2 separate regions of the Homo sapiens genome follow, and region 1 is reported to be linked to region 2. The links are microRNA targets in miRTarBase. Many come from high-throughput screens and were not tested one by one. Region 2 holds a microRNA gene; the other region holds the end of a gene's coding sequence.

Region 1 (3,334 bases), not on the chromosome of region 2:
CAGCTCCCCGCCCACTCTGCCCAAGCAGAAGTGAGCCCCTCCTGGGCAGAAAGTGCCCGCAATGAGGGCTGAAATGTTTCTATTCCCTGAGTAACCAACCTTTCTCTGTTTCCTTGTCCAGGAAACGGAGGTGGAGCTGTACAACGAATTTCCTGAACCTATCAAACTGGACAAGAATGACCGGGCCAAGGCCTCGGCAGAAAGCTGCAGTTGCTGAGGGGGCAGTGAGAGTTGAGCACAGAGTCCTTCACAAACCAAGAACACACGTAGGCCTTCAACACAATTCCCCTCTCCTCTTCCAAACAAAACATACATTGATCTCTCACATCCAGCTGCCAAAAGAAAACCCCATCAAACACAGTTACACCCCACATATCTCTCACACACACACACACACGCACACACACACACACAGATCTGACGTAATCAAACTCCAGCCCTTGCCCGTGATGGCTCCTTGGGGTCTGCCTGCCCACCCACATGAGCCCGCGAGTATGGCAGCAGGACAAGCCAGCGGTGGAAGTCATTCTGATATGGAGTTGGCATTGGAAGCTTATTCTTTTTGTTCACTGGAGAGAGAGAGAACTGTTTACAGTTAATCTGTGTCTAATTATCTGATTTTTTTTATTGGTCTTGTGGTCTTTTTACCCCCCCTTTCCCCTCCCTCCTTGAAGGCTACCCCTTGGGAAGGCTGGTGCCCCATGCCCCATTACAGGCTCACACCCAGTCTGATCAGGCTGAGTTTTGTATGTATCTATCTGTTAATGCTTGTTACTTTTAACTAATCAGATCTTTTTACAGTATCCATTTATTATGTAATGCTTCTTAGAAAAGAATCTTATAGTACATGTTAATATATGCAACCAATTAAAATGTATAAATTAGTGTAAGAAATTCTTGGATTATGTGTTTAAGTCCTGTAATGCAGGCCTGTAAGGTGGAGGGTTGAACCCTGTTTGGATTGCAGAGTGTTACTCAGAATTGGGAAATCCAGCTAGCGGCAGTATTCTGTACAGTAGACACAAGAATTATGTACGCCTTTTATCAAAGACTTAAGAGCCAAAAAGCTTTTCATCTCTCCAGGGGGAAAACTGTCTAGTTCCCTTCTGTGTCTAAATTTTCCAAAACGTTGATTTGCATAATACAGTGGTATGTGCAATGGATAAATTGCCGTTATTTCAAAAATTAAAATTCTCATTTTCTTTCTTTTTTTTCCCCCCTGCTCCACACTTCAAAACTCCCGTTAGATCAGCATTCTACTACAAGAGTGAAAGGAAAACCCTAACAGATCTGTCCTAGTGATTTTACCTTTGTTCTAGAAGGCGCTCCTTTCAGGGTTGTGGTATTCTTAGGTTAGCGGAGCTTTTTCCTCTTTTCCCCACCCATCTCCCCAATATTGCCCATTATTAATTAACCTCTTTCTTTGGTTGGAACCCTGGCAGTTCTGCTCCCTTCCTAGGATCTGCCCCTGCATTGTAGCTTGCTTAACGGAGCACTTCTCCTTTTTCCAAAGGTCTACATTCTAGGGTGTGGGCTGAGTTCTTCTGTAAAGAGATGAACGCAATGCCAATAAAATTGAACAAGAACAATGATCATCTGCCTTTGCCAGAGTCTTTTTTTCCTTCTTCAAGAGCCTTGGCTCAGTAGAGACCACATGAGCTAATCATAGTCAATGCCTTATCAAGCAAGAGAGCCCTCCATAAATGGGCACGTGTGGTGCTTCAAGGCAGAAAGGCCCTCTCATATCTGGTCCTGTAGTGCCTGTCCCTAGTTTTTTTTTGTTTGTTTTTTTTTCCGGGGGCGGGGGTGGGTGTATTTTAATCACATTGTTGGAGGTTGAGGACCATGGATGGAGAACGCATTGTCCCTTTAGGAGAGCAGCCAGAAACTGCTGGGGACTCTGAGCCATGCATATCCTGTAGGTGTAACTGTAACCTAGTCATGTGTTATGTGTTTTATTTTTAGTTGACCTAGTTGCTAACACTTAGATGTGTAATTCTGCATTTGTCACAGGAGAGGAAGATTTGGCAGCAGAGGCCCTGTATTCCAACATATGTAAGCCCCCACCTGGAATGGAATAGTTGCCACTTAGAAGCAATTTTATTAAAATAGTAGTAGTTCAGGTCGTGAGTCACTTTAGGTTTTGCAGAAGTGCCTCATTGAGTTAGATCTTGAATTCTACTTTGCTACACTTTTCTACATTTCCACTTCTCAGGCTCCTCAGCTGGTTTCTTTCCTCGTGGCTCCTCTTGGCATGTACTTTATGTGTTAAAAATAGCATAGTTTAGAAGTTCAGATGCTGCACAATGTGAGATTATCCACAGTGCAATTCCACCCTGGCTGGGTGGCTTAAATCTTCTCTGGTCCTATATTTTGCTTGGGCCTCATCAGGTGTTTGTCCTCTAGAGGAGCAGAGTTCTCTCCAGCTTGGGGCCCAGTGACTGGGCCACAGGGTGTGGACCCTTGTGTGATGCTCACCTCTGCAAATCAGGCATCTATTCCTCTGATTGTGTTCCACTGGTCTTGACCTTGTATGTGACATTAAAATGGACCTTGACTTCTGACCTGCTTGACCTTCATCCTAAAACTGATGATCATCCTGATATTAACCTGCTTTAGCTTGAGATGAATGTAATCTTTAATTGACTGATTTCAACCATTGTCCTTATCATAACTTACCCTAATTTTAATGGCTTTGGCTTTGAACTGGCTTTGACTTTACCCTAAACACGTTCACTGCTGAATGACCTTGACTCTGACCCACCTCCTGACCCTAATCATCACCTGACTTTGAAGTTAACATGGAACCCTACCATGACAATAGGTCTTACTCTCTGACCTGGGACTAATTAGTCTCATGTCCCATCAGCCTGATGGCTGAGCTTGGTGTCATATTTTAACCCTAAATTGTATAATGTTCATCTAAGGGATTCAGCTTAACCACAATAGGGAGCCATGGCTGAGACTGAGCTCTGCATCAACACAGTGCCTTTTTCTTTTTTTTATTTTTTTATTTTATTTTATTTATTTATTTATTTATTTTTGATCATTCTTGGGTGTTTCTCAGAGGGGGATTTGGCAGGGTCATAGGACAATAGTGGAGGGAAGGTCAGCAGATAAACAAGTGAACAAAGGTCTCTGGTTTTCCTAGGCAGAGGACCCTGCGGCCTTCCGCAGCATTTGTGTCCCTGGGTACTTGAGATTAGGGAGTGGTGATGACTCTTAATGCTCATTAAGAGTCATCACAGTGCCTTTTTCTATATTCCTATTTAGATTCAGCATAAGCATGTGTTTTCTCTCAAAAGAGGGGAACTTGTCATTTTGCTGGAATAAG
Region 2 (3,352 bases):
TCATTGCTTGTGGACGGACCAGCTCCTCCAAGGCTCTGAAAAGGGCTTCCAGTCCCGTCACCTTGCCTGCCTGCCTCGGGAGCCAGGGCTGTGCACCTGGCAGTCCCTGCGGTCCCAGATAGCCTGAATCCTGCCCGGAGTGGAAGCTGAAGCCTGCACAGTGTCCACCCTGTTCCCACTCCCATCTTTCTTCCGGACAATGAAATAAAGAGTTACCACCCAGCAGACACTGTTTCTGTGTAGTGCCTGGGAACAAACCCATGTTGCTGATGACCTGGTGTGAGCACCCTGGGACCAGTGGGGATGAGGGATGCCAAATGTTGGGTTTTTATATTTTACTTAAATTCTGATGTACTGGTAGTAATTCTCAACATTGGCATTAGCACTGATGATCTGCAACAGCAGCAATGGTCACTGAACCTGCATTATCAACCGTAACCTCTGAATAATTTCTCCAGCCAATACTTTAAAACATTTTCCTATACTGATTCCTAATTGCTATTTGCCCAGGGCTTTCTAGTTATAAATTATCCCACAGCTGACAAATCACTGCCTTACTGGAAATTCCCCATTCACACATCTTGCCAGCTGACAGAGTCATTGACAAATGCCCTACCAATTGGCAAATGACTATCATTGCCTCAAGCACAGTCCTGATGTTGTCCAGTGAGGATGCCCCATCCAAACACGTGGGTGTTACTGTCCTCATCCTCAGGTTTTGTACCATGAGTCTGACTTGAGTGAAAGGGGACCCAGGGCACCCAGAGTCCCACAGTAACCCAGCTGGGGACTTGGGAAGAAGGGGTGGCCCTGGCTCCCCAGCCATGGCTGCAGGACATTCCTTGGAAGGGACTGTTTGGGGCAGAGGAGAGGTGGGATGGAGAGAAGGTATGAGCTAAAAATCCCCAAGCTCTGCCATCCTCCCTCCCCTACTTCTCCCCTCACTCCTCTGACCAACTTGGAAGGAAATACTGACAGCAATGAAATGCAGGTAGGGTTCAAAATTAAGACCAGCCAGATATGCTGGCCCATACCCTCCACACACCTCCCTCAACCCAACTGTCCCCTCACCCAAACTAGGGTCTCTAGACTCGACCCTCACCTTTATGAATCATCCTTTCTCTAGAAAAACTGAGTGAGAGAACCTCCAAATACTCCCCTCTGAGGCCTTCCTGCTTCCACAGCGGGGTCCAGTCCCTGGCTCCTGCCCCTCATACTCCAAAGGTCTTGACTCAAGTGAGGCCCTTGGGAACTAGAATTTCAGACTGGTGCAAACATTCAATGGAGCACCTGTGTCCTCCTGACCTGAACGTGCTTGAAAAGGGCCCCAATATATCTCCTTTGGTAAAGAAAAGGACCCCCAAATTCCCTCTCATCAGAGTACCCACTGCTCTTACCAGTAAGAACCCAGGTCTCCTCCAGGGCATTCTAGGTCACCAAGCACAGCCCCCTGGATCTTCTGTGGTCCTGTCCCAGAGCCTTTTACACTCCTGGGAGGTTACCCCACGGCCCAAATTATGTCCCGGATGGGAATGGGCAGATTTTGAACACACAGTACTCAGCCACTTAAGCAGGGAATGCGCATGCAGCAACAATTTCTACATCAACATCTACACCTTGGTTACGCCCTCGGAGGGTCTGAACCTTGTCCACCGAAGGGGCCAACCGCAGCCTTTGCTGATGGGCACAACTGTAAGGTAAGGGCCCGAGCCCTGGTTCATCCCTGGTGACCTTGTCAATGTTCCCTCAGCTGCCTGCAAGAGGCTGACCGCTCCTGGCAATTCGCCAAACCTTAGTGTCAGCTACCTGCACTCTTAAGCTGCTCCCTGGCCTCAGGGCCCATTTCCTAAGTCCTCAGCTCTTCCAAGCCCTAGGGGGAAGGTGAAGTAGCAGGGGAAGGATGGAACCCAGCGTGGAGGTCGTTCTCCTGCCGACCTGTCTACCCTGCAGGTCAGCCCTTCGCCAAGTGCAATGCAGAATGGACAGGGAGGACCGGAGACCAGAACAGGTCTCAGGGGACACAGAGCCCAGAACAGCAGACGAGGCTACCTCCACCAGAGACCTGGCATGAGCTCCTGGCAGGATCTGTAACCCTGGGCTCATTACATCCCCCATTGCTCTTGTAGAACATCTGTTAAAATAGGTCAAGTGAGCATCCTCCATCCCCAGCATTCGGGGTGTCTGTGGGTGAATCTCTGGGAGAGACTCTGTGACAGCTGAGAGGAAGCTTGTAGGGGTCACAGCCATGTGGTATTCAGCATGGGACCCAGCTCAGTGGGGAGCCTGGGGGGCCAGTCCTTCTCTCACCTGAGCCTCAGTCCTTCTCGCCATGTTTAAACATGGACGTCACAGTCCTGGCCCAGAATCCTTCAGAGGTCTGTGGTGGGGTTGGAGGATGTTTACGGGGTGTCTTTGCCCCTTGGATATTTTTGGGGGGGTCAAAACACAGGAAATGGGACAGTCATGGTGGCTGACGCCTGTAATACTAGCACTTTGGGAGGCCAAGGTGGGCAGATCACGAGGTCAGGAGTTCAAGACGAGCCTGGCCAACATGGTTTCCATCTCTACTAAATATACAAAATTTAGCCAGCTGTGGTGGCGCATGCCCTGTGGTCCCAGTTACTTGGGAGGCTGAGGCACAAGAATCGTTTGAACCCAGGAGGCGGAAGTTGCAGGGAGCTGAGATCATGCCACTGCACCCCAGGCTGGGGGATAGAGCAAGACTGTCTCAAAAAAAAAAAAAAAAAGGCCGGGCATGGTGGCTTACGCCTGTAATCCCAGCAATTTGGGAGGCCAAGGTGGGCAGATCACGAGGTCAGGAGATCGAGACCATCCTGGCTAACAAGGTGAAACCCTGTCTCTACTAAAAATACCAAAAAAAAAAAAAATTAGCCGAGTATGGTGGTGGGCGCCTGTAGTCCCAGCTACTCGAGAGGCAGGAGAATGGCATGAACCTGGGAGGCGGAGCTTGCAGTGAGCTGAGATCAAGCCACTGCACTCCAGCCTGGGCAACAGAGCCAGACTCCGTCTCAAAAAAAAAAAAAAAAAAAAAGCAGGAACCCTGGAGCCAGATCATCTGCATTCAAATCTTGCCCCTGCCATGTCTTAGCTCTGTGTCCTTGAATAAATCATATTGCCTCTTTGAGCCTCAGTTCCTGCATCTGTAAGACAGGGATAAAAAGAAGGCCTAACTCATAGAGACAATGTCCATATTAAATGAGGTTGTATATGTGAAGTACTTGGAACAGTGCTAGGCATATAGCACTTACAAGCATTAGTTACTAGAAGTAGTTATGATAACTATAACTTATAACTTTAGTAGTGATTATTTATAATATTGCAAACAATGTTT

What was found. Region 2 holds the annotated microRNA hsa-miR-4769-3p (UCUGCCAUCCUCCCUCCCCUAC, at 912-933, shown strand). A microRNA usually pairs through its seed, bases 2 to 8, with sites in the 3' UTR of a target mRNA and lowers its output. Matches are read on the target gene's strand: a 7mer-m8 pairs with bases 2 to 8, a 7mer-A1 pairs with bases 2 to 7 and ends in A, and an 8mer does both.
Region 1: miRTarBase lists RAB7A as a target of hsa-miR-4769-3p. Seed matches in the 3' UTR shown: 7mer-m8 at 495-501.

The regions. Positions count from the first base shown.
Region 1 is chr3:128,813,206-128,816,539 of GRCh38, forward strand. RAB7A (RAB7A, member RAS oncogene family) reads left to right here. Exons shown (of 6, transcript NM_004637.6): 6 at 122-1,593. The coding sequence ends at 217. Among named protein-coding and RNA genes, the nearest start is that of MIR12124, 32 kb to the right of the region's middle. RefSeq lists an enhancer at 1-235.
Region 2 is chrX:47,586,565-47,589,916 of GRCh38, forward strand. MIR4769 (microRNA 4769) reads left to right here and starts at 865; the gene lies at 865-941. All of the region lies in intron 5 of SYN1 (synapsin I), which reads right to left. TIMP1 (TIMP metallopeptidase inhibitor 1) reads left to right here. Exons shown (of 6, transcript NM_003254.3): 6 at 1-225. The coding sequence ends at 127. RefSeq lists a silencer at 726-1,020.